2 linked regions of the Homo sapiens genome follow. The protein of the gene in region 1 interacts with the protein of each later gene in a biochemical or structural test. Each region holds a gene or a part of one and is shown on either strand. Other genes may lie near its edges.

Region 1 (3,754 bases):
AGTTCAAGACCAGCCTGGCCACATGGCGAAACCCCACCTCTACTAAAAATATAATGATTAGCCAGTCGTGGTGGCGGGTGCCTGTAATCCCAGCTGCTCGGAAGGCTGAGACAGAGAACTGCTTGAACCCGGAAGTCGGAGGTTGCAGTGAGCCGAGATCACACCACTGCGCTCCAGCCTGGGCGACAGTGTGAGACCCCATCAAAAAAATAATAATAATAATAAAATAAAGCCACAAACTAACCAGCTGACACAAAGAAGCAGTGACCAGCTACACTCTGAGGTTGCAAAGTCTGTTCCTACTCCCAGCATTTACAAGCCTTATCATCTACTTATTTTCTATCCTAAACATCAAGGATACATTTTGGTAAGTAAACACATAAACATTATACATATGTTACAATAGACTAGGTACTATGACACCCATTACATTCAAATTGTTTTGCTATCGGCTGGGTGTGGTGGCTCACACCTGTAATCCCAGCATTTTGGGAGGCCGAGACAGGCAATCACCTGAGGTCGGGAGTTTGAGACCAGCCCGTCCAACACAGTGAAACCCTGTCTCACGCCATTGCACTCCGGCCTGGCTGACAGAGCGAGACTCCATCTCAAAAAAAAAAAAAAAAAAAAAGCAACACTGCTTTGTTATCCACACACATTGCTTTGTGGTGGTTTTTTTTGTTGTTGGTTTTTTGAGACAGGGTCTCACTCTGTCTCCCAGGTTCAAGTGTGGTGGCGCGATCACGGCTCACTGCAGCCTCTACCTCCCAGCTCAGGTACACACACTACTTTGGAGTAGATAGATTACTTAACTTTCACTTGATATTTACTTTTAACATGTTCAAATTTTCTAAAATATTTCTAGAAATACCAATGTTACTATATTTTAAATGTTATTTTGGAAGAGAATCAGAGTAGCCCCCAAATCTAATTTTATACAGTTTATATTTGAAGGCCACATATACTCCCTTAGCTACTACAAACATGTGCCACTGAATTCTCACTCTCACTGACAGACAGGCATCCTACCTGTTTGTTACTTTTAATAGAAGAGGAGTTGAAGTTCAAAGTGGATTTGCATAAAAGTCTAAGATATCTTTTAAAACCATGAAATACACCAGATTTTCTCAGTGTAACACTTACGTAATGAGCGTCGTCTTTTGTTCTTTAATTTCCTCCTTTTGTTCATTCCAGCTTTAGAAGGAGATTCTTCTTTGGCCTTTGGCTGGCTAGAAACTTTTGAGGAGTTCTGCTGACTGAAGTGTGTGGGTACATGACGAGCTAGCCCTCCCTGAGAAGCAAAGCTGGCATTGCAGCCACCAACAACACACTAAAAGAAAATAAAACAGAAATAACGTCAGGCATGCTGTGTAGGGCACGAGAAGAATATCAATGAGTGAATATCTAGTATTTTCGGAAGTAAATAAGTAGTACAATAGAACTAATTCCAGAAAGGAAGCATAAGGGACTAGTAGTCTTTTCACTTTACGAAGTAAGTTGCCAAGTAAGATGACATACATTAGACAAAGCTTGAAAATGCAACAAGTTTCACGACCTCCCAGTTTACTGCTATTTCCACTATATGCAATACAAAAATAATGGGATCTTCTTCCCAGAAAAATCTGGTTTTGAATTAATCATTGTTATAGCAGAAGCACTAAGCTGTTTTTGCAACAAATAATTAGATATCCTGGCAATGACTGGATTCCTGAATTTTATTTTTATTTTTTTGAGACAGCGTATTGTTATTGCCCAGGCTGGGATGCAGTGGTGTGATCTCCGCTCACTGCAACCTCTGCCTCCTGGGTTCAAGTGATTTTTGTGCCTCAGCCTCCCGAGTAGCTGGGATTACACGTGTGTGCTACCATGCCTGGCTAATTTTGTATTTTTAGTAGAGCTATGGTTTCACCACATTGGCCAGGCTGGTCTCGAACTCCTGGCCTCATGTGATCTGCCTGCTTTGGCCTCCCAAAGTGCTGGGATTACAGGTGTAAGCCAGCTGTATTTCTGGATTTTTAAAGTATTTTTTTTACGTTACATGCTACTTCAAAACCTTCAGCAGACTTCCTAGTGTTACACACTATTAAAACAGGTGAGAGAAAAGTTCAATATTGACTTTTTAATGTATTTTGTATTTTGGGTTTTGTTTTTTTTGAGACAGGGTCTCAGTCTATCACCCAGGCTGAAGTGCAGTGGCATGATCTCGGCTCACTGCAGCCTCAACCTCCCAGGCTCAAGTGATCCTCCCACCTCAGCCTCCCAGGTGGTGGTACTATAGGCACACGCCACCACACTCTACTAATATTTTGTTGTTGTTGCATTTTTTGTCAAAAGGGGGTTTCACCATGTTGGGTAAGCTGGTCCTGAACTCCTGGGCTCAAACCATCCATTTGCCTAGGCCCCCCACAGAGCTAGGTGTGCACCACCACACCTGCCTTGTCTTTGTAAATTACTTTCTTATAAATTTCTTAAACTTCAAATGAAAACCCATACGGACTACATTTAATATTTTAAAAATAAATAAATTTTTTTTATTTTATTTTGTTTTTTTATTTATATTTTGTTTGTATAAATTTTTTAATTTGTTAAACAATTAGATCTAGCCTCTCTCTTAGAAAAGACATGCTCAGTGTTGGTCATATGCCGCCCTCTACAATATCCATTAAATACTGCCTCTTTAGCCTTCTGTACTTGCAATGTTAAGAAATCAAAAGGTTAACTACCCGAGTCACCTGACAGATGTGCTATTTTAACAAAGAATGCAGAATGTTCAGGTAGCACCAGAATTAATATATACAAATTAACTGCGGTATAAGTGTGTGATTTCTAATTATATCTTGGGGGAAAAAAATTTGCAGGTCTTCTAACAAATGAATCGTGGTAATTAAAACAAAACAAAACAGAAAATATCCACAGTTGGATGGATAATGACTTTTCCATTAGTCATTTAACCAATTTACTTAGTTTTTGACTTACCAAACTCTAAGCATATAAATGTGTCATGTTAAAAACCAAATATATTCATCTTGTTATCCCCAGGCGGTTCATCTTGTAAAAGTTCATCTAGATAATAGCATTTAAAAAAATCACATGCCTCAGGCTCTTTCCTTCAATCGAGGTACCTCTACCAATTGTAAGCTGCTAAAATCACAACACAGCCCTTTATTTGTAAAAATCATAACTTTCCTCATAAAGTCTCTCTAAATCTGCCACAAATGGACAAGAGCTAATTCTCCCTTGAGGCTGTCCTCACACTTCACTGCATATCTATGTCAACTCACACTTTCCATTTTGAACACAGAGATGTATATTTATGAATATTTATATTCCCAGAAGCATCTTGCAAATCATAGATATTACTAAGTATATTAGCAGAACAGTTATATGTTTACTGATGCTGATAAAAAAAAAAATCACACATTCTTCTTATATGGTATCCATTAATAATTACTCTATTTTGACATACAAAATATATTTTGGGGGCTCCTTATGGCCCTCAGCGTCTCTATGAAAAATGTTTACTTACTCTATGGTGCACACTAAGTTAAAAAAGAGGTAGAAATGATTCAAGACTTTAGTTCAAATACTTATCTATGTCCAGTATTACATAATATGCTAGAAGGATAAAGATGAATAAGATATAGATACTACACTAAAAGAGCTTCTATATGTTCCGCAAAACATACATATAAAGCAGTATAACTTCAAAGGAGTACAGTAAGGCCTAACTAAAGCACAGGGCTATGGGAAACCC
Region 2 (3,712 bases), on another chromosome or scaffold:
TAGCCAGTAACATCCTTCTAGAAAAGGGGCAACAACTCACTACATGGACATACTTGCCATCTCTTTCATGATCCAACCCACTGCATTTAAACTTCTATATCCTCTCCTCCTTTGCCCTAATGATATCTCCTCTAAGGTTACCAATGGCCTAGTTCCAAATCTAATGGCAGTAATATTTTTTAAACTATAAAGAAAGGTTACAGTTAAACATTATCAGAGGTTCTAACTCTGTAGAATTTTAAATATTACTTATGAAACTATTACATAAGAAATCATTAAAAAATATAAAACCATAGGAACTATAATCTCCAATAATTATAAACACAGAATACATTTAGGGCTTATTATATGTCAAATACTGTTCTAACTGTCTCACACATAACGAATCATTTGATCCTCACAATAACCCCAAGGCAAGTATTATTATCCCTGTTTTATACACAAGGAACCAAGCATTGAGAAGTTGTTTATCCAAGGTCACGTAGTAGGAGAGCCAAGATTTGAATTCACTTTAGTTCTAGAGCCTATACTTAATCTCTGTATTACAAAACTTTCTCTGGTTAAGAGAACTACAAAAAACAACCATTATAAAAAGATAAGGCATAATTTTATTACTTTTAACTTTTTTTCACCACAATGAAAGTAACTAAACACACAGCTTTACAAAAATAAATTTTTATTAAAAGCAGTAGAGTCTGAGCAGGAAGACAGTACAAAGAATGTAAACAATGTAAACATCACTACATTCAGCTCAGCCTGATTGAATGCTGAAAGACAACTCTAAATGCTCTACGTGCCCTTACTAGCAAGATACATTAATTCTATTTTACACAGACAACAAACACACTCTAATTTTGATTAGGCAAAAGTATTTTATCGAAGTCGATCCCAGCGCCAAATACTGGCATCATCACAAACAGCTATAAGAATGCTGCTATCCCTGCTAAAACTGGTTTGTCGAATAGCAGCACCACATTTATGATGAGTCAGTGTTGTACATCTAGGGAAAAAACATGACAACAGGTTAAAGACCACACATAACGTTGTCAGTGTCTACCCTAAAACAGCGGATTAGAAAATAAGCAGATGTTCCAAGTCATACGAAAAGCACTTAAAACCAGAATATACTTCACTAAGAGCTCAGTCTCAAATTTTATAAAATTTAGATATATTTTAAGTTCAACAAGCACTACATAATTTGTATAAAAACAAGAAATGACTTGTCACCAAGGTACTTAGGAAAAACAAAAATTATTGGAATAAAAAAGAATAACTTTAACTCTGAAAACAGTAAATGTTAAAAATGACTTAAGGATGGCACTGCAAATATAAATGATCTTCTCTACATTGGCATACAAGTGTGGAGAAAAAGCCTGAAATTTTGAACAGAAATTTCTAAATACTTACTTGGCTTTATGAGGATCTTCTACTTCTAAATCCCAAACATAAAGTTTGCCAACTTGATTGCCCAATGCAAGCATCTGTATAAACATATTTTTAAAAACATCAAATTAATAAAATTACCAGGTTCTAAAGCATTGGAGGAATCCTCAGACAGCTTTCTTGTTTCAGAAAAAGCTCAGTTCCAGCCTCTGTGCTCTTGGCTATTTCTTTGGGTCTTATACTCCTGATTCGTAAATATGAATAAGAGCAATTAATACATCACAAGTGTCTTGAGCAAGTAAGAAGGCATTGTGCAAATTTATGAAGGGCCTTACAAATTTACATTGTTAGCATGGTACTTACTTTTTCTTCTGCCTTCAAGAAATACAGCAAATGCTGTGGAAAGCCTTCCAAACTTTTCTTACAGAAATAAATACCCAAGTAATTTGTTACCAGAAAATCCTAACAATAGATTTATTTAAATTTTTAGGTAACTAGTATTTTATCTGTCTTCTATCCTGATTTTTCTCTAGGAAACAGTTACATAGGTAGACTGACAATCTAATTACTAAAACATTAAGTCTTAGTAATGTTATGATAATGTTTATGTTATGGAACATAAACACCTAATTTCCACCATTGATACCTAACTGCCAACTTAATTTAAAGTAAGCACTGCAGATCATATGCAGAGCCACAAAAGTAGAATGAATAACACCAAAGTATTTGATGAATGACATCAAAGGGCAAAGTAATCAATACAAAACATCAGGGTAGATTTGTAAAGGAAAAAGAACATGGACACAACAGAAAAAGCTAGAATTACAATGGTCTTTCATAAGTCAGATCATTTCAAAATGTAAAAGTATGTTGATACCTTTTGCCAGAAATCCATAGAAAACCTCATGTACCAAATGTCACACTGGCTGTAATCAAATCGCCCAAGAATAGTCACATTAGATTCACTGGGTTTAATTTTATCTATATCATCTTCCATCTTGCCAGGTTTCCAGCACACAATGGCATTTTCACAAGACTAAAACAGAGAGAGAAATGAGAAAAAGAAATGTTAATGAGGAACTGAATCTTACAAAGTAAAAACAAGGCTTTTCTATTGTTTTGGAATTCACAGCTCTTAGAACCTGGTTAATCCATCTATCAAGTACAGTGATGTACATTCATTTATATTTACAGTCAATGACCATACTTAAGGACAAGAAATCTGATTATCAACAGAATTCGATAATACAAAAGAATCACATTGTCTGAAATATTCATTTTGGAAGTCAACATTTCTCTTTCAAGTTAAACCAAGTTCAGCTCTAGATACTCTGACACCCAGAGACTTTAAGTGTTTTATAGCACAGGTCAATTACAAACACACAGAATTAGAATACATGGCTTTTCAGAATCCGGCATTAATCTGGCTCTTGCTTACTTCACTAGTTTCATCTTTCCCCATGCAGTCTCCCATTTCGCTTCTAATCACAGGTGGTTTCCTTTACCTTATTAACTATTATTCCTTCATCCAGTATCTGTGCCACACAGTAGGTACTCAACAGGTATCTTAGGAAAGTTGATGAACTCACATAAATAGCCTTAGAATTCAGTTTATAAATAGGGCAATCGAAGGCAAGTAAAGCAGTTGTTTAACATCAAGACACTCATATGGGGATAGGATTGAAATAGGCTTCAAACTTATACTTTTCCTATCCTATAAAATCAAATTTGTATGCACATACCTAAGCAGTAAGTGGTAAAGAATACAATGAGAAAAAATTGCAAAACTGTGGGCACTATTCATATTACTGTCTAGGTCAGTGGTTTGCCCACGAAGGGACATTTGACAATGTGTCTGTGCTCTAATGGGTAGAGGCCAAAGATGCTACTAAATATCTTATAATGCACAGGAAACCCCCTACAAAAAAAAGAATTATCTGGCCTAAACTAAATAGCACCAGGATTCAGAAATCCTCATGTAAGTGAACAGTGCCCCTAGAGTTTTACTGGACAGCCTACATAATATAGTGACAGGTGGCAGCCCTGTGGGGTTCACAGGCATTTAAATAATTTAATAGTATGGCCACTTGAAGATTAGGGAGGAGACAACACATTTTTCTTCTCTACCTTTTTTATTTAGACTTTTTAAATCCTAGTGCTATATGACATCTATTATTCAAGTTTTTAACTGTAAAGGACCTTAGAAACCACCCAGTGTGATGACTCTTGGCTAAATGCAAAATTGGATCAATAGTCTGTGGAGTTTTCTCAAAAGACTCATCTCAGCCCCTACTGATTCAGAGTCTCTCAGCCCCTACTGATTCAGAGT

What was found. Proteins that work in one complex are often made in the same cells at the same time.
Region 2: the proteins of AEBP2 (region 1) and EED form a complex in vitro, tested with the Homo sapiens proteins (one study listed by BioGRID).

The regions. Positions count from the first base shown.
Region 1 is NC_000012.12:19,491,376-19,495,129, reverse strand, and holds part of AEBP2 (zinc finger protein AEBP2), read right to left. Parts: intron 1,331-3,754; coding exon 1,144-1,330; intron 1-1,143. UniProt on the Homo sapiens protein: Acts as an accessory subunit for the core Polycomb repressive complex 2 (PRC2), which mediates histone H3K27 (H3K27me3) trimethylation on chromatin leading to transcriptional repression of the affected target gene.
Region 2 is NC_000011.10:86,275,687-86,279,398, reverse strand, and holds the end of EED (polycomb protein EED), read right to left. Parts: intron 2,420-3,712; coding exon 2,261-2,419; coding exon of another isoform or gene 2,231-2,260; exon of another isoform or gene 1,628-2,230; coding exon of another isoform or gene 1,580-1,627; exon of another isoform or gene 1,482-1,579; coding exon 1,408-1,481; coding exon of another isoform or gene 1,404-1,407; exon of another isoform or gene 1,001-1,403; coding exon 874-1,000; 3' UTR 589-873; downstream 1-588. UniProt on the Homo sapiens protein: Polycomb group (PcG) protein. Component of the PRC2/EED-EZH2 complex, which methylates 'Lys-9' and 'Lys-27' of histone H3, leading to transcriptional repression of the affected target gene.